Regions from separate parts of the Homo sapiens genome. Here region 2 is linked to region 1. The links come from fine-mapping of genetic effects on gene expression. A gene starts in region 1. The other region holds a variant in brackets. All regions are shown on one strand. Distances are between the middles of the regions.

What was found.
Region 2: its variant is fine-mapped to the expression of ADAMTSL3 in aorta (GTEx, PIP above 0.99). The same link has a PIP of 0.9 or more in cerebellum and tibial artery.

The regions. Positions count from the first base shown.
Region 1 is chr15:83,648,757-83,658,712 of GRCh38, reverse strand. ADAMTSL3 (ADAMTS like 3) reads right to left here and starts at 4,590. Exons shown (of 30, transcript NM_207517.3): 1 at 4,437-4,590; 2 at 2,883-2,984. The coding sequence starts at 2,951. RefSeq lists an enhancer at 5,952-6,121.
Region 2 is chr15:83,700,795-83,710,750 of GRCh38, reverse strand. ADAMTSL3 (ADAMTS like 3) reads right to left here. Exons shown (of 30, transcript NM_207517.3): 3 at 6,243-6,362. Among named protein-coding and RNA genes, the nearest start is that of ADAMTSL3, 52 kb to the right of the region's middle. RefSeq lists enhancers at 520-689, 2,377-2,546. The variant C/T (reference allele first, on the strand shown) is at 4,356.

The sequences.
Region 1 (9,956 bases):
AATACTCCAGGCTGGAAGAGAGAGTAGGAACAGCAGCTGCTGTCTTCTCTGGGAAAATCAGATCCCTAAGGAGAAGCCTGGAGCAACAGGAAGCTTCCAGGGCCTGTGAGACAGGAAGAGGGGAGGCCGCTCCAGCTGCCTGGATGAGGGGAACAGTGAGCTCCTCGAGGAATGGTCAAGAACGAGTTACAAAAACAAGGAACTACCAGCCTCTTACCTTGTTCTACAATCTCTCACAATTATTTGTGGGCAGTGAATATAAGAGTTTACATTTTAGCTGATTCAATAAAGAAAATATATTTGTGGACGGGCGCAGTGGCTCACATCTGTAATCCCAGCACTTTAGGAGGCCGAGGTGGGCAGATCACTTGAGGTCAGGAGTTCGAGACCAGCCTGGCCAACATGGCAAAACCTCATCTCTACCGATAATACAAAAATTAGCTGGATGTGGTAGTGTGCGCCTGTAGTCCCAGCTACTCAGAGGCTGAGACACGAGAATTGCTTGAACCCAGCAAGCAGAGGTTGCAGTGAGCTGAGATCATGCCACTGCATTCTAGCCTGAGCAACAGTGTGAAACCATGTCTCAAAAGAAAAGAAAAGAAAGGAAACTCTATTTGTTATTAATTAGTTGGCACATCCCTTGCTCCTCACAGCTCAGCCTCACACATCTAGCAGTTTTCTAACAACCACCTTGGTGGCAGCACATACGAAGCAAGGGTAGACGCCAGGGAACACCTTAAGCCCCACCCAAACACCAAAATCACAAGATACTTCAGAAAGGGCGGCCTTGAGTCAAACCCAGGCTGACCCTACGGAAAAAACAGAGCATCCAACCCACGGACAGGGACACAGGGCTGACCTACCACCCTTCATTAGAACCTTTTCTCAGGGCCTCTGGTGAGACAGACCTAGCCATGCCCACCCACACTCCCTGAAGATCAGGCCCTCCACAGCTGATACCTCTTGAGTGCCCCCTACAGGCTCTACACCAGAAAATACAGGCACTGCGCTTGCTTCAAGCTTCTAATGCTGACAAGCAGCAGCAACAGCAGAATGCTGACATTTATTGTACACTTACTATGTGCCAGACATTGTTTGGTTTGGTTTTTCACTTTTTTCCACTTCACAATGGATTAACTCTTCCAAACAATTCTGAGGTCTATACTAATATTATCTCCTCTGTATAGATGTGAAAACTGAGATGCGATGCAGAGACGTTTGCGTGACACAGTAATGAAGTGGTAGAGCTGGGATCCGAACAGTGAGTGGCGTGAATGATGAAGACTGCTGGTCTGAAATCTCCTTTTATGACCTTCTATGCACACTGCCTGGATACATGGAAACAGCACTGCCACAGGCACACAGATATGGAAAAATCCAAAAGAGGTCAGTGAGTGATTCAAGCTGGGCAAACACTGCCCTTGGCCAAAGGTCAACAGACTGCCTCAAAGCATATTTAAATTTTATAAGGTGAAAGAAGGCAAAATGAACACTGTGCCTTGAAGCCTCAGCCCCATTTGACCAGGAACAAATCTCTGAAGCTCTCAAAGCCTGTTTCAGATCCGCTGATGAGACAGAAACGTAAGTCTCCACGCTTTTACCTCAACAGTCATCTCGCTGGCCAGAGAACCCTAACATCATCCTGAAAAGACTTAACTTTTGTTCTAACAAAAGAGCTCTATTAATATGATTATGGGATAGTATCGATAAAATGGGATAGTGGGGAGAAGATGTACCTTGCTGACCAGTTCTTTGTGCATCACAGAATTCACAGGGCATTGGAGCCAAAAGAGGCTTTAGAGGCACTAAGTCCAAGAAAGTGAAACAAGAGGCAGAGGAGTCTGATTAATTTATCCCAGGGTATATATCTTCATTCATGGATGCATGTTTATTTAACAGACATTTAAGCCCTTAAGTGACAAGTCCCTTCCGAGACCCTGAGGGTACACAGGCCACCAAGCCATGTATTTGAGAAGCTATGTCTGCAGGGAGGGATTGCCTTGTTCTAATTCATAAGACACTGTATGGAGCTAGCAGCAGCCCTTGGGACACAATACTAAGATGTGCCCTGCCTTTAGATCTGGGGCTGCAAACTGCTTGGCTGAATCCAGGCTGCAAACACATTTATCTGCCTTTCAATACTTTAAAAACTGGGAAATTTTGTAAGAAGTCTAGATGATCCAGCTATCTTGAAAAATAAGATCTGGCAATCCTGGGCTTATGTCTCCACTTAGCAACGATCAGATGGAATTGAGTAGAGACTGCTCTTAATAGATGGAGCACGCGTTCTGCACTTTGCCACTGTCTCCGTTACTCTCTATTGTCTCTTAGGCAATGCTAGCCTCATTCCTTTGTTTGAGTCTGTCCTTTAGGCAAATAAAGATGCAATTCATGAGCCGGGTCCTCTCAAGTTGGTTGGAAAAGACAGCAGAAGTCTAAAGAGAGGACTGTGGGATAAAACAGTGGGATATGTGATGATAGATGTAAACTCAGAATATTTATTTAGCAGCTTAGCTAGGGCCAGAACCTGGCTCTGCCCATTGTTTCCTGGTCTCCAGCAACCCAGCCTCTGCTGGGCACATGCAGACAGCCATTCTAGTCTGAAATGACAGGGTCCATCACAGCCCCAGGTCATCACCGGTGTATGGTATCCACAGTGCTATTAAAGCCCTACTCAGGATTCAGAGAGGACCCAAGGGATCTGGATAATCCTTACAGCTAAGCCAACCAGAAATACCATTGGCTAGAGATAGGAAAGAAAGTCTGGTTCTCTGGTGTAGGATTAACACTAATCATGCCACATCTTAGGTGGTATACAATAATGCCTCTGAGTAAACAGAGGGATGTCCACCATTTCCCTTCCCCTCCCTATATGACCTTACCTGCGGGAGGGGAGAGTGCATGAAGACCATCCCTATCAGCACCCACCAGGGGCTCGTCCAGGAAGCCATGGGGTCTAGTCTCCTCCGGGTCTCAGTTGTAGCCTACAAACGAGGAAAGAGTTCATTACCAACCAGCTCTGGCCCCCATGGCAGTAAACCGTGACTTAAGCGACCCATTAGATGGAGGGACCCTGAAGCCCATATACTATTTTGGAAAGGTTTGTGTTGGCCCAGGTTGCCGCTGCCTACTGCAGGGTGCAGGCTAACTGGGCTCCCTTTAGAAGGTCCACAACAAAGTCAGGCGAGGGCTGGACCTGTCTCCAGTGGGCATCTCATACCTCCAGCTCTTCAGAAGCTGAGATATCCCTGCCCAAGCCTATCTGTCAGCAGCAGGGTGTCGCTATTGGCATTTGACTCAGGAAGCCAGCACAGAGCCAAGGTTTAGGCTAGCTTCTGCTGCTCGCGGCAAAAATGAGTCTAAGACAACAAAGCCGCCCAGAGAGGGAAAGGACCTGCCTAAGGTCACACAGCAAGATAGTGACATTTTAGGGCTGAAACGCAGATCTTCTGATAGTTCAAGGCTTTCCTCGCTAGATGACACCGTGCGCCCTCGAGGTCCGGGACCCACACCCAGAGAGACGCCTGAGAGCTAAGTTCAGGGAGGTTTGGAGGACACAGCCCCTGAGCCAGCCTAACACAATCTCCTAAAAGTAGGTGAGGGCCAGCCAGCAGAGGTCAGCTGAAACCAGGAGGGAAGCGGGGACTTTTTCCCTTACTTTTCCTGTCAATTTACAGGGAAATCAGTATGAGTCGAGACTGGAAAAGCCGAGGTCACACTCGACTCCCGCTTCGCCTCGCGGGCGCCTTGGCGGAGCTGGTGTCCGGGGGCGGGTCGGTGGCTTCTCTCCATCTGGAGAAGGCATTAAGGGCCTGGTCTAATGTGATCCGCAAATGTGCTGCTGTTTCCGACCTGAGGCGGCGACTCCTGGCTGAAGGGAGGCGGCCAGTGCGGGGCCCTGGGACTCTGCGCCACCCTCGCCTGCTCGCACCAGCCTTCCGAGTGCACACTCCTCCGACTACCCGCTGCCTCGAAGTCGCTCCTCCAGTGCCTCCGCCGCGTCCCGGTCACCCCCACGCCCACTTTCCACGATCGCGCGTCGCCTCAACCCCCGGCGTTCTGGGCGCTCGCTACCCAGTGGTCAACCGGCCGGACCTTCGGACCCGCGAGGTTTCTGCTTAGTAACTCCCAATCCTGAAAAACTCCAACCCTGTGGAGTTCCCCCATAATCAAGAACGCCCCTCAGCCCGCGAACTGCCGCCGAAAGACTCTCCCTGAACCTTCCGGGACGGCACGAAGCGCGCCCGACCCGAGGTGCCCAGCAGTGAGGAGCACCCCAGTCCTGAGGCCCCCTGGGGCCCGCGTGGCACGCCCCGACTCTGCTTGGAGACCCCCAACTTGCTTAGAGAGGCCACTGCTCCAAGTCTTACTCCCTCTGGGGAGCGCCTTCCCCCGACCCCTGAGGGGCCGCCCTGCGCCGAGCTCGGTGCACCCACCTTGCGCCGCAGAAGTATCTGGGACGTGCAGCCCCGGGGCCGCGCGGGCTCGGCGCGCGCTGGGGAGAAGTTGGCAGAAGCCGCCCGTCAACACCTCGTGCGGAATCCGGCACCAGGACCTTCCCCGACGCCGGCCTCCAGCCCGCGGCGCCGCAGTCGCCGCCGCCGCCGCGAAGTTAAATGGGGCTGGGACGGGGGCTGCCCCGCCTCTCCCGCCCCCTCCGGGCGCGCAGAGCGCTGCGCTGGCCCCGGCCCAGAGGCGGAGGGCGCGCGCCGCCACCTGCACCGCCCGGCAAGTGCACGGCGCGCCCAGGCGCCCGTCAGCCTGCGCGCCGGCACCGCGCCCTCGGCTTGAGCTGGAGGCGCCGGGGGCGCGAAGAGACGCCGTGTGGGGCCAGGCCCGGGCCGCTCGGAGCGCGCGGGGCCGCGGCGACGGCGGGACTCGGCTGGAACGCTCCTCCGCCCGCTTCCTGGAAGCCACTCCTCGCCCTGGGCCGGCCGCCAGGCGTTGTGCCAAGAGCCGGGATTGCCGACGCCGCCACCGCCGCCGCCGGCAGGCGCACTGGGGAAAGGCGGCCGCTGCGCCGCAAGCCAGCCTGGCCGCCCCGCCTCAGCCGGAGCCGGAGCAGGGATGCCGTCGCTCCCCCCGAGCCCACCCCCGGCCCCACCTCCCATAGCCTCCACCCACCCCGCCCAGACCCGGGCGCCAGCTCTGCAAAGTCAGGCCCAGCAGCCACACAGAGGTTTGCCCGGAACCGCTGGCTCGTGCCTAAGAGCCATAGGCACTCCTGGCCAGGCAGGACCATAGTGGAGACCAATGGCCCTCTCCTGGCCTGCGCCTCCTCCGCGCAGCATAGACGCCACACAAGGGACTGTGGAGCGCTCACTGCCCAGAGGCCTGGGACCTTTGGCAGCCAGGGACCACGAGGATCTTGCAGGAGCGCCTCTTAACTGGGTACCTGGCGCCTCCTTGTCTGAGCCGGGCTTGGGGAACTGAGAGCTCCACAGGTGCCAGAATCATGCCGTGTCCAGGCCTGGGATTTGGGGTTGGGGGGAAGAGTGTCGCGGACAAGAGACTGGGGTGAGTTGCCTGTGTACTTCTGGAGGTGAGGAGAAGTAAAAGGAAATGTTTGTCCCTGTCCTTGTCCTAGTCCCAGCAGGATAAGCCAAGGGCCAGGAGATTGATCTTAAAGGCTGCATTATGCCCCCACCTAAGTCCTACCACAGTCGCCATTTCCTTGGGTGTCTGTCGAGTACCAAGCTCTTTGTGTCTATCTGATCTTCACAGCAGCAGTAGTTCGAGCATTATCCCATTTCACCTAGGATAAATCTGAGGCTGGGAGGATAACTTGCCCACCATGAGTGGAGAAGCCAGGACTGGAACCCCTATCTGCCTCTCTCTAGAGCCTGGACTGTTCACCCCTAAAGTTGTTCTCCTGCCTTCTCTGTGGTTGCTGCGTTCCGGTTACTGCTAGAGCTTTGCCAAGAGCAATTGGCCCTGCCTGCTTTCCTCACTCATTCTTCCCTTACTTACTCTGGTGACTTCCTCTGACCAAGAAGAGGATCTTCAAGGCTGTCTCTCCACTCTATGTAAAATGATTGGACTTGTGGCAAGTGAGCAGAGGACAGGTCAGTGTGGAGACAGGAGAGGTAAGAGTAGCCAGTGAAGGGTAGGGAGGGCTGGGCTAAACTAGAACTAACTCATCTATGGACAATCGATCCTTTTTATTTACTGTAGTTGTGGTCTATAAAGTCACAGAACAACGAATTTGTGAATATGGAGCCATTGTTCCTAGGGGAAATATAGAGTTGGGTTCCTGCAAGCTCACAATATTTTTGTCAATCAATCAACACATTGCCTTATTTTATGCATGTTTCTGTTTAAAGACGCCTTACTTAACATCTATTGTTGATTCCTGAACACTGAGCTCACAGCCTACAGTGCTGTAACTCATGCCTGAATGAAGCTTATCTAACTTACGTATTTTCTCTGCAACACACATCCCAGCCTTCTTCCACTTAGGAACGCTAGACTTCACTTCAGCACTGTGCCTGGGGGGTGCTTTAAGCAGCAAAATCATCAAAAAAAAGACCAAAAAAATGTGAAAACATGGCAATGAAGAGAACTTTTGGGCCACTCATTTACAGTGTGAAAGCTGAAACAAGAAGACAGAGGGTTGACTGGTTGGACCTTAGCTTCCAACATGTGTCTCAAGAGACTCAAAACGTTCAGCACTGGTTCAATGACTTTGAAAGTGCTGCAGCTATTGATTATGAGGTGTTAAAATAAAAACTTTAGACAAATTTAACAGAGGTTAATTGAGCAAAGAACAATTTGAAAATAGGGCAGCCCCCCTCAGCCCCAAAACAAAATAGATTCAGAGCAACTCTGGGGCTTCCACATAGTCAGATAATATTTATGGATAGAAAACGGAATATGATGAACAGAAAACGGAAATGAGGTACAGAAACAGCTGGATTGGTTACAGCTCGGCATTTGCCTTATTTAAACATGGTTTAAACAGTTGACCGCCTGTGATTGGCCAAAACTCTGTGACTGCTTCAAGAGTAGGTTACAGTCTGTTTACACATCATCAGGTTACAGTTTACTATGTACAGAGAGACCTTTAGGCCGAACTTAAAATATGTAAGAAGGCAACTTTAGGCTAAACTTAATTTAACGGAGGTGACAAATAAATTTTACCCAGTAGCTGAATTCACAATAAGGAATCTGCAAATAATGAGAATTGATTTTTCGTGCTTCTCATATCAGAGTATCAGTAAAGGAATAGCCACATTAACATTCAAAACACTTAGGATGTGGCAGGCACTGTTCCAGATACTTTGCTTATACCGAGTCATCCCATCATCACAACAGCCTATGGGGTAGATATTATTTTTATTCCCATTTTGCAAATGAGGAAACTGAAGTGGAAAGGTTTAAATACCTCATGTTCTTAGCAACTAGACGATACCACTCCTCATCGTTCATATTCTAAAACTAGCCCCACCATATCATGGAGTCAAATGCAAAAAAGTCACATGAATATGCAAGATGAAATGGAGAATTCAAAGAAATATTATGCTTGTGCAGTGGTGGCTGCATTAAGCAGAGCTCCCGGTGTCTGCAACTCAAGAAGTCACTGAGAATGCCTCTGGAGTTGGGGGACTTTGCTGGGAACATTTGAGATGCACTGCTCTGTTTTAAGGTATTAATGGCTCAGCAGGACTTCCTGTCTCATCTCCCTTGGGCAATCTGACTCCTGAGCCAGCCTCCAAGGAGTGCCCCACACCAAGTACTAAGACCAGGACTGAGCCTTTCTCTCCCACAGGTTCCATCTAGCAGGAGGCCAGCCCCCTCAAAGAGCAGGTGTTCCAGTAGCGAAAAGTAGTAGAGAAAACATCACCAATACCTTTATAGAACTTTTGCCTTCCAGTTAACCCTAGCAGGTCAAGCAAACCTGTGTGAGTGGCCAAGGTACTGTAAGTTAGGACAACAAAGAGCTGCAGAGGACAGCCTCCACTGGGGGTGCTGGCTGGACTTCACAGATGTTATGCGCAGAATCATGGCCTCACCACCCCTCAGTCACCTCTTCCCTCACCCCTTCCCTCAGTCACTCACCCACACTTCCCTCCCATCCTTACTTCCTCACCTGAGGCTTGGCCCAAATGTTTAAATAAGACATTGCCAAAGGCATGGTGTGGTGGGAGATCAGGAATTGGGAAGAACAGGAATGAATAAACCCCAAAGCAGCTAATCTGGCTGATTTGGCTGTTGAGTGTAGCCACCTACCCAATCACTATCTGGGGAGGTTCAGGCCCCTCCCTGCCTACTTCCTGGACTTCCTCCCTGTGAGAACACCCACCACCTGGGGACAATGGCAATGCATTTAGACTCTGAAGGGTCGAGGAAACTGAGTTCCATTTCCTCCCTAAGATCCAACTTCTTGGCTTCCTGGCTTTCACTACCTGTCTCAGGACCTGCTTCTTCCTAGATGAATTTCAGAGATTCCTGCCCGCGCTCCCAGCTTTGCCTGCTCCCAGCTTTGCCTGTTGACCTCAACCCAACAAGCACACAGTACAACATTCACGTGAGAGATACACATTGAAGATCAGGAAAGGAACTATTGATGATGGTGGTGTTGGGGTGTGTTTAGGTTTTACCCTTAGAGACAAGGAATATCAATTCAGGCATCAGCCTTAATTTGTTCTTGAAACAGAAATGCTCTTTCTGGTTACAGAGTTGTGAAGTGGGCTTGGGAAGCACACTCAAGAACGCTGTGTTGGAGGCTTGGAGAAAAAGAGTACTTGGAGGCAAGTACTCCAATAGAAGTTACCATTGACTGCAGCAGACACCAAAGATACACTCTCAGCCAAGGCCACTAAGAGATAACACATCTGGGGCCAGGTGCGGTGGCTCATGTCTGTAATCCCAACACTTTGGGAGGCCGAGGCGGGCAGATCATTTGAAGTCAGGAGTTCGAACCCAGCCTGGCCAACATGGTGAAACCCCATCTTTGCTAAAAAATACAAAAATTAGCCAGACATGGTGGCGTGCACATGTAGTCCCAGCTACACGGGTGGCTGAAGCAGGAGAATCACTTGAACTGGGAGGCAGAGGTTGCAGTGAGCTGAGATCACACCACTGCACTGCAGCCTGGGCAACAGAACGAGACTCTATCTCAAAAAAAAAAAAAAGAACACATCTGGATGTTAGGTGAACATAGTGCCTTAGGGGCACAAAATTAGCTAGCGAGTGTTCTTCAGGAAAAACCTATGAAGGAGTGAGGGAAGCAGGATAGGTAAGGCGCAAGACTAGAGCAAGCTGTGACTGAGGTCAAGCCTAACCTTCATGTGATCCTCGGGGATCCTGGAACAGAAACCACACCATAGATTTGCCGTGACTTGAAGCACCAGGACCAACTGCTGACCCGGGTGCCAGTAAGTCACTGCCTCCACTGGAGCTGGGTGGTGGTATATGGTGGTATAACCTCCAAGGTGGCTCCCTGTGGCCAAGGACAATGCTCCAGGAATGTATCAGCTGTAAGCCTTTAGCTGCTGCACCAAATATATGCTGGGGATAGGTGTGCCTGCTGGTAAAGAAATCGGACAGGGCATCCTCTCCAACGGCATCTACCATGCCTGGTTTTCAGGACGTATCCCTAGTCCCACACAGGAAATATGCTCAGCTAGCACTGATGGTTTTCTGACCAGAGTGGGTCCTTCTTTTGAATAGAAATTTGCTTTATAAAATTTGTTCAAGTCTTTATCCAGTTGCTCATAAGCAAGAACAGCCCTTGGGAGGGAAGTGTAGTGACAGGAAGTGTTTCTGCTGAGTGAGGGGCTCTGTGTGCTTTGGCAGAGCCTCACTTTTGGGTTTTCCCCTCAGCCTGCACTTAGATCCCCAGGTCTTCATGAGTCTTAGAGGTGCCAGGTCTGCGATTTCAAGTCAGGAGCTTAGGAATTAGTACTGCTGCAGCACTGGAGGTCTGAGCCTATCAGAATCTCTGTCAGGAGGGC
Region 2 (9,956 bases), 52 kb before region 1:
CCTTTGGGATGGAAACAGTAAAGAAAATACAATTTAGAGAGGCATATTGAAACAAGGAATCATACAAATAGGCAGCCAATGACATCCCAGGAAGGAAAGAGAAGAGTCAACTATGACTTCACCTATGATGTCATTAAGGCCTTAGGACTTTACAAACATGGAATTGTACCAACACAGACTTTTACAAATATAGGCTGATTCATACCAGAATATAGGTGTGACTTGAAGAAAGTAACTGAAATTCTTAAAAAGGATGCCTGTTGAAGGTGGTGGGGGGAGGGAGGTTGGAGGACATAGAAGAAGTTAGATTTTAAAGGTTAAAAATGAGTAGCAGAATGAGTAGCAGAAAGCAGCAAGAGACAGTAAGAATTTGAAAACCAAGTGGTCACTGAAAGCAATGGTAGATGAGAGTACAGGCAAAAGCATTTTTAAGTCTGGAAAAAAATCTCAAATCCTCTTAAATGTGGTCAGGAAGAGACACAGCAAACGCTAAATTAGTCAAGGGCAGAGGAGCAGGAAGTTTACCAGGGAGAAGGGATGGCCTGGTATGAATAGGTATAAAAGGACCTCTCCAACATGAGATCAAGGTAGTTCTCTAAATGGCTTCGAGCTTGCATTAGTGGGATTATCCTTGGTTAATTTTAGGAAAATCAAAACCCACTACTTGTCCTACATGCTTGGAATCCAAGGTATTAACCTTTTTTCCTGCCTTTTGGTGCCTAGTAGACTAAAAGTGGCAAGGTCAGCATTATTTTAATACCCTATATTAATATTAACAGGTACACACATAAAGAATTCATAAAACATAGGAAAGTGTGCATGAGGCCCAATTTCTAAGTCACCTACTGCTCGTGCTTAATGTCCTTTATCCTACGATGGCTGCCAGTGAGGAGGAAGCACATTACAGCAAATCCACCAAGTCTGGGAGGACACACCTTCCACCTTCCCCCATGCCTAACAAATGCTAAAAATAAAGAGAAATAAAAGAATATTTATGCAAAAAACAACTTTTCCTAACTCCTTAAAAAATAAATGACCTCTAACTGAGAAACACTGTGCTTGTCACAGGCTTTCAGTGACCATAATAAAGCTCCAAGTTTAAATCTTCAGTGAGTTGAAGCAAGGTAAGGATGGAAAACAACCACACCATCCCCCTTTCCCAGAAGGTGATCTAGGCAGAGAAAGACAGAGCAGATCTCCAAAAACTGACTTACTCAGCGATGAAAAGAACCATGTGCAGTGACCAATATCCAGCTGTTTGCCTATGAACAGGTCCTCTATGGGACAAAACTCCAAAACCACTATGAGGAATGACCAAAGAATCTACCCCAGAGACAGGCTGGCTAGTAACTGAAACCACAGCCTTCTTAGCCAGTCGTCCCAAACTAATACATTCTAGCTACTTCATGTACCTGATGCAACCAAGTGCTAGAACACCTTTATTCTAAGAATGTGCCCATCCAATAGAAAGTCAGTGCCATTTTAATTTCAGTTAATGTTTCACTCAAGCTTCAAAAAAAAATTGTGGCTTCTATTAAAAACTGGAAAGGAATAAATATGCTTATGAATGTTCTCCACATAGCTAATTCCAAATTCCTGAAGGAGATGAGAATGAGCTGATAAGGCATCCATTAATCTTAATCTTAATCTCTGGGGTCTATTAAGATCCCCAAAGCTCTACTAACTGTAAACAGTGGAATCAGGATTTTTAGGATAGGAGATAATTTTCTAGGTGGTTCTTCTGAGAGAAGCTCCTGGATATATCTCAGAGCAGGAGAGCCTTGGGTTTGGAGTGTAATGGTCTTAGTTTTTCAAATAACCACGGGTGTCCTTGAGTAAGTCATTTGCACATTTGGCGTCTCTGTTTTCTTGACTTGTAGAATGAGGCACTTGGGCCAAAGTCTCCACCAGCTGTAAAACTGTATAATTCTCTAAGTAATAGTTTACCGAATTGCTGGCAAGACTGCCTCAATAATCAGAATGATCCAATTAACACTCTGCAACGTGGAATATTCTATTTGTAGTTTCAGACTATTTTAGAGTGGAAAGAGTTCAGATCATGAAATCCAGTCACTTTGTTTTTTAAAAGAAATAAAGAATCCAAAGTCCAAAACGTTAAATAGTTCTGTTAGATTATAAGCTGATTAGTGGTAGAAGCAAGACCAGGCTGCCTGACTAGTCCTGTTTGCACTAAACCACATTGTTACTCAGTTGGCTTCAGACCACTTTCTTCACTAGAAGCTGCCGCGGCCCTCCGTATGATCCATAATGTGGCTTTTACGCCTCCCATTAAATGCAGCCTACATCACAGCTATGTGTTACTGGCCTCAGGGTTATTAGTTTTCCAGGCATCTAACCCAGGAGACATTTGAAGAATGACCTGAAGGTCTTCATGAAATGCGCCCAGGATAAAACACTTTAAAAAGTCCTGTGAGGTTCATCCAAGACAGCAAATATCTACACACCATCCATTTGCATCCCATTTTATCAAATGAGTACTCTATAGGTAGGAAGATCCTAGTGAACCCACATCTGACCCAACAGCATTAGAAACTAGGCTGCAGCCTCAATTGCATAAGTACTTTGTCACTCTGGCTTCAAGCCACTGTGACAGCAGGACAGCACCCCTGGCATATATATATGGAGATTCCACAGGTAGGTACCCATGCCACCTGACACAGGTTCTGCCCTGGCAGCCACTCACACAGACCCTGTACCTACTTCTGGCTGTGGAATGCCGGTGGCTGCTGGCATATAACAAAGGCTACACTGGAAAACTGTCCCCACCATTTCCCCAGGTATGAAATCTTTGGAGAGACTGCTCTGAAAACCTTTTAGGGACAACCTGGGAATTTCTGTGCAAGAGTAATGCTGCATGCCACCCAGTATGCTGCAATTTGTTCCAACATGAGACAATTTGTTCCAAAGAGTACAACTGGCTGCTAGACATTAAACCCTATATTATGTTGGATCCAGCAACTGGGTTGAATCTCTCAGACATAATGATGTGTGAAAGAAGCCAGACACAAACGAGTATGTGGTGTATGATTCCATTTATATAAAATCAAAAATAAAATTAAAAGCAGGCAAAATGAATCTGTAATACTGATAAAAGTCTGAATGGTGGTTACTTCTTGAATGTGGGATATTGATCGGAAAGAGGTTCAAGGAGCCTCCTAGGGTGCTAGAAATGTTCATTTTCTTGATCTAGGTAGCAACTACACAGGTGTAAAAATACTTAAAAATTCATCAAGCTCTATACTTCAGATATGTATGCGTTTTACTTACATATGTTATAGCTCAATAAAAAATTAATTGAAAATATTGCATGAGATCTCCTAAAGTAAGAATTAACTTCTTCCTTTCTTTTAGCATAAGCATATCTGAGATTCTTTGAATTGAGTGTTTGCAAACAACATTCTTAGTAATAACAATAGCTAAATTAAATGCTTATATGTACCAGGCCCTATGCAGGGAGACATGAATTAACGCCTACATAAGGTAGATACCATCCAAATCTCCATTTCATAGATGAGAAAATTAAGGGACAGGGAAGTAAAGTAACTTGTCCAAAGTAAAACAGCAAATCAAATGGCAGAACTGACAAATCAAATTCAAACCCAAAGCAGTCTGACTCCAGAGACTTTGTTCTTAATTGATCTTAATGTTTTGTCATATGCTGAAGGATCAGGGGATTTTTTAAAAGTTTGATAGTATTTGATTGGTTTTATCCTTTCCCCAGTGCCTGAGAAGCATGTTCAGCATTAAGAAAAAAGAGGATTGGCCAGGCGCAGTGGCTCACACCTGTAATCCCAACGCTTTGGGAGGCCGAGGAGAGCAGATCGCTTGAGCCCAGGAGTTTGAGGCCAACCTGGTCAACATAGCAAAACCTCATTTCTACAAAATACAGACAAAAAAAATTATCCAGGGGTGGTGGTACATGCCTAATGCCTATAATCCCAGCTACCTGGGGTGGGGGGCGGGGGCTGAGGCAGGAGGATCACCTAAGTGTGGGTGGGGAGGTTGAGGCTGCAGTGAGCTGTGATCATGCCACTGCACTTCAGCCTGGGTGACAGAACAAGACCCAATCTCAAAAAAAAAGAAAAGAAAAAAGAGGAAAGAGAATCAGGATTTGGTTGGTGGGTTAACAGTCTCTAGCTGATTAAATTCCTGAGGTTCATTCAATAGATAAACCTAGTTTAGTCCAAGCGCCTATTTTCTGTGCCTTTAGTAGAGGAAAGTGGGTGCTATTATTGGCTTGTTATAGTCTCAAATTATTCCTTTCTCCTAAAAGAAATACACAGTGGGGGCAACACAGAGTGTTTTCATATGCTAGTCACTGAGGCTTTCTGGAA[C/T]ACTATGTCCTAGGATGAAATTTCCACAGCATGCCACACACTTTTCAGATCTGCTTTAGACCTTTTGAAAAGACTGAAGGGGCTTGTTTTCCCCTTTTCCCAGCTTTTATATTGTTATTATGTTAAATATAAAGTATCTGTGGAACCTGGAGAAGACATTAACCACTCTTTAATTATAAAATGCATAGCTTGGTATTTTCCAGACACCCGCTTTTATCCTTTACGGCCCTCTCAATTAGTTCCTCTGAAGTTCTCATATGAAAACCTGTTGGATTATTGATTTCTGGATTAAAAGGAGCTATAAATTATAGACCCTCTCAAAATCCATCAAGGGAAGGGGGAAGGCAGAAAGTGACTTAATGATGTTTTAGCCCCTATTAGCAACCAGGCCCAAATGTTTGGGCTCTACAATGCAAATATAGAATTATTCCCCAGCCCACCCCTGCTCCCCACAATGACTAGTAATGCACTCACTCACTTTTAAAGTAACTTGAAAATATGATTGAATGTTGACATTTTGAGTAAGAAATTGGTCTCATCCCACTCTTGCCCCAATGACCAGTGTGGCTCCCTGCCCACAGCGGTCTGGAGGGTCACAGCCCTGACCTTCACCCCAGTCCCAGCTCTGGAATGAAGCCCACCAAGGGTAGGTCACTGAGCAGCAGCCTCAAGGATGGAGAGTGTGCAGTGTCTTCCCCTGAGCTGGGAGATAGAGGACTGAGCAACAGACTCCTCTACCTGCCCTCTATGCTCTAATCTCCGTCCTGCATCAGCCACTGATGCTCTGCAAGACTTTCATCCTTCTCCCAGCCCACCTCCAGCACTCTGCCTAGCTCCAGCCAGCCCTCAGAACAGGGTCCTACTCCCTGTGGTCACATCTTGGATCTACCCATGTTGGCAGACTGAATTTCTCAGAGCTGTTCCTTTTGAGTACTGTCTTTTGCACTCTGACTAGGCTTTACCTAAATCAAACCAGGATGCACTGGCCTTTGGCTATACAGCTGAGGAGAGCACAGCTGGCCTCAGTCACTGGGCCATCTCCCTCCACTCTATCACGTACCATGGGAAGGTGATCTTGCCCCAGCTCCTCACCTTCACTTGGGCCCTACAGGTGCTGAGGTCTGCCAGATCCACCCAGGCCCTACATCATCTTAAAGTCCACCCTGGTTTGCTCAACTGCCCCATAAATTCAGGCTTTACCAGCTTTGCATTAGGCAAAGTTGAAACTCTCTGTTTCACCAAGTTGTGAGTGATTTCAAAGATGGATAATCTTAAATGCTATTATGGCATCAAGGTGAATTGAGGATGGAAGGGAATCACAACTTCCAGTGCTCAGCTTACACATGTCAGCCAAGCAAGGCCTTCTTCTCTAGTTAGCCTTCCTAAAATGATTTCAACACACACACACACACACACACACACACACACACTCACAGACATATGCACACACAGGCATTCACACTGTGTTCCTTTCTGAAAAGTAATCTTGGGGAAAAAAGCATGCAACATTGGTGCTGGTAAAAGAAATGAAGTAAAAGCTGAGGGCAAAGAAGTAACACATAAGCAGAAAACAGAATTTTGGATAATTTCAGAATTGAATCATCAATGTGGTGATAGCTGAGATGAACAAATCCATCATATATTTCTGATGAAAATAAGAAAAAGTGACTTTTATGCAAATGCAGAGAAAGAACTGCACATTATATAGGAAATTACATGCAAACATGGGCAATCCACATATTCTGGGATCCTTCAAGGGTGTCAAGGGTCTGTTGTACTTGTATTGCAAAGAGGAAAATATAATTACTTTGAAGGTCTTTTAGAGACAGTTTCCTGACCACTGGCAAACAGCAAAGCCAAAGGTAGATCCTTGTCCAATGTTCTTACCTGGTCATCATAGCGATAAGTGAGGAACTGCTCCCCTGTTGTGTCTTCCAGAAAACTTCCCTGAGGAGAAAGTGCAAACTCGGGAAGGAAATAGGCTCCAGGAGATTTCTCAGCTGTGGTCTGAAAAACAAGATCATTTGGTCACAAATAAGGCTCCAGTAAGGACCCCCTGACAGGTAAAGTCCAAGAAGGCCATTCCAGGAGAATCCACCATTAATAGCTGTACCAAGAAACAAAAAGGGAAGTGACCTCTCTTGGCAAAGACCAGGGTGAGGCACACCAGGTGTGTCAGGGCACTGTTAGGCCAGGATATCACAGTGGCCCGAATCAAACTGGCAGCCATGGCATTTATTCTCTGACACCTGCCTCTCTCCCCCTCCCCGCTACCTCTGCTCCCCATCTTCCAGCAATTCAGTCACAGAGTAGTTAACTTTGTCTTGTTGTTGCAAATCTATTGTTTTTAGGATTTTCTTTTCTTCTTCCTTTTGTGTTTTTTTTTTTTTTTGGCAAAGGAGTGAGAAACAAAAATTTTCTCCCATACTACAACAAAAATGCACTTCATTGTAGAAACTTTAGAACATATAAATGAGCACAGAAGAAAATAAAATCACCCATAATCTTTTCAACCTGTAATAACCACTGTTAATTGTTTTGGTGTATTTCCTTTGAGACTTTTTCTTCATAATGCTTTGTTTAAAAATCCAAGCTTAAATAAACATGCATATTGTAGACTGTGTTTAGTTCATGGAAAGCTCATACCCCAGTCCGTTTTCATGCTGCTGATAACTACATACCCGAGACTGGGAAGAAAAAGAGGTTTAATTGGACTTAGAGTTCCACGTGGCTGGGGAGGCCTCAGTATCATGGCAGGAGGTGAAAGGCACTTCCGACATGACGGCCACAAGAGAAAGTGAGAGGGATGCAAAAGCGGAAACCCCTGATAAAACCATCAGATCTCGTGAGACTTATTCACTATCACGAGAACAGTATGGGGGAAACTGTCCCTATGATTCAAATTATCTCCCACCGGGTCCCTCCCACAACACATGGGAATTATAGGAGTACAATTCAAGATGAGATTTGAGTGGGGACACAGAGCCAAACCATATCACTCCACCCCTGGCCCCTCCAAATCTCATGTCCTCACATTTCAAAACCAATCATGCCTTCCCAACAGTCCCCCAAAGTCTTAACTAATTTCAGCATTAACCAAAAAGTCCACAGTCCAAAGTCTCATTTGAGACAAGGCAAGTCACTTCTGCCTATAAGCCTGTAAATTCAAAAGCAAGCTAGTTACTTCCTAGATACAATGAGGGTATAGGTATTGGATAAACACAGCCATTCCAAATGGGAGAAATTGGCCAAAACAAAGGAGTTACAGGGCACATGCAAGTCCAAAATCTAGTGGGGCGGTCAAATTTTAAAGCTCCAAAATGATCTCCTTTCACTCCAGGTCTCATGTCCAGGTCACGCTGAGGCAAGAGGTGGGTTCTCATGGTCTTGGGCAACTCCACCCTTGTGGCTTTTCAGGGTATGGCCTCTCTCCCAGCTGTTTTCACAGGCAGGCGTTGAATGTCTGTGGCTCTTCGAGGAACATGGTCCAAGCTGTCAGTGGATCTACCATTCTGGGGTCTGGAGGACAGTAGCCCTCTTCTCACAGCTCCACTAGGCAGTGCCCCAGTAGGAACTCTGTATGGGGGCTCCGACCCCACATTTCCCTTCCGTACTGCTATTGCACAGGTTCTTCATGAGGGCCCCGCCCCTGCAGCAAACTTTTGCCTGGGCATCCAGGTGTTTCCATACAACCTCTGAAATCTGGGCAGAGGTTCCCAAACCTCAATTCTTGACTTCTGTTGCAGGCTCAACATCACAAGGAAGATGCCAAGACTTGGGGCTTCCACCCTCTGAAGCCACAGCCCGAGCTCTACATTGGCCCCTTTCAGCCATAGCTGGAGCAGCTGGGACACAGGGCACCAGGTCCCTAGGATGCACACAGCCAAGGGACCCAGGGCCCAGCCCGCAAAACCACTTTTTCCTCTTGGGCCTCCAGGCCTGTAATGGGAGGGGCTGCCATGAAGGTCTCTGACATGCCCTGGAGACATTTTCCCCATAGTTCTGGGAATTAGCATTAGGCTCCTTACTACTTATGGAAATTTCTGCAGCCAGCTTGAATTTTTCCCCAGAAAATGGGTTTTTCTTTTCTATTGCATAGTCAGGCTGCAAATTTTCTGAACTTTTATGTTCTGTTTCCCTTTTTAAACTGAATGCCTTTAACAGTATCCAAGTCATCTCTTGAATGCTTTGCTGCTTAGAAATTTCTTCCACCGGGTACCCTAAATCTTCTCTCTCAAGTTCAAAGTTCCACAAATCTCTAGGGCAGGGGCAAAATGCCACCAGTCTCTTTGCCAAAACATAACAAGAGTCACCTTTGCTCCAGTTCCCAAGAAGTTCCTCATCTCTATCTGAGACCACCTCAGCCTGGACCTTTTCATTCATATCATTATCAGCATTTTGGTAAAGGCAATCAACAAGTCTCTCCGGAGTTCCAAACTTTCCCACATTTTCCTGTCTTCTTCTGAGCCCTCCAAACTGTTCCAACCTCTGCTTGTTACCCAGTTCCAAAGTTGCTTCTACATTTTCAGGTATCTTTTCAGCAGCACCCGATTCCACTGGTGCCAATTTACTGAATTAGTCCAATTTCATGCTGCTGGTAATGACATACTCGAGACTGGGAAGAAAAAGAGGTTTAATTGGACTTACAGTTCGACATGGCTGGGGAGGCCTCAGAATCATGGCAGGAGGCAAAAGGCACTTCTTACATGATGGTGGCAAGAGAAAATGAAGGGATGCAAAGTGGAAACCATTGATAAAGCCATCAGATCTTGTGAGACTTATTCACTGCCATGAGAACAGTATGGGGGATACCTCCCCCATGATTCAAATTATCTCCCACCGGGTCTCTCCCACAGCATGTGGGAATTATGAGAGCACAATTGAAGATGAGATTTGGGTGGGGACACAGAATCAAACCATATTACCTGGCATCTGAATCACTGGACATAAATCACAATGGTTGGAGTCTGAGGGGGTCAGAAAGGACACCCTCTTTAGGGGAATATGGCTGGGATATGATGACCCAATGGACTTGCTACCATCACACTATCACCCACCTCCTGGGAGAGCCTGTCCAAGGGAAGACTGAGGAGGTAGAGGGTTTACCAGGATCACTGCCTTGATTGCTTCAAGGAGGAAAGTAATAAAGGAGATAGAATCTGCAGAGCTTAGCCCCATCCAGTCAAAAATACATGGATCTGTGACTATACCCCCGACTGGATACCTCACTCCCCCTGCTTGGGAAGAAATGAGTCAGAAATAAATTAAGAGGCCACAGGTGTTACTCTAAGAAAATTGCTCTCTGCAAACAGGAGAAGCAGGGAGTAAACATATTCCTCTGACACCTCTGCTGCTCCAATGGACTCATTCTCAAACTGCAGCAGGAACTATAGTTTACGCTAAAACGTCCCTCTGAATACTGTGTTTTAGAAAGGGAAATCAACATCATTCTGTCAAGGAATATAGAAGAGATAACTCCACTAGACTAGATGGCTTAGATAGCACTAGACTGTTAAAATAATTTGAAGACTTTCTTATTAAATTTCATTTATGTGAGAGATTTAGCACCACTATTGCTAATTGCTCTTACTGGCTTCAATC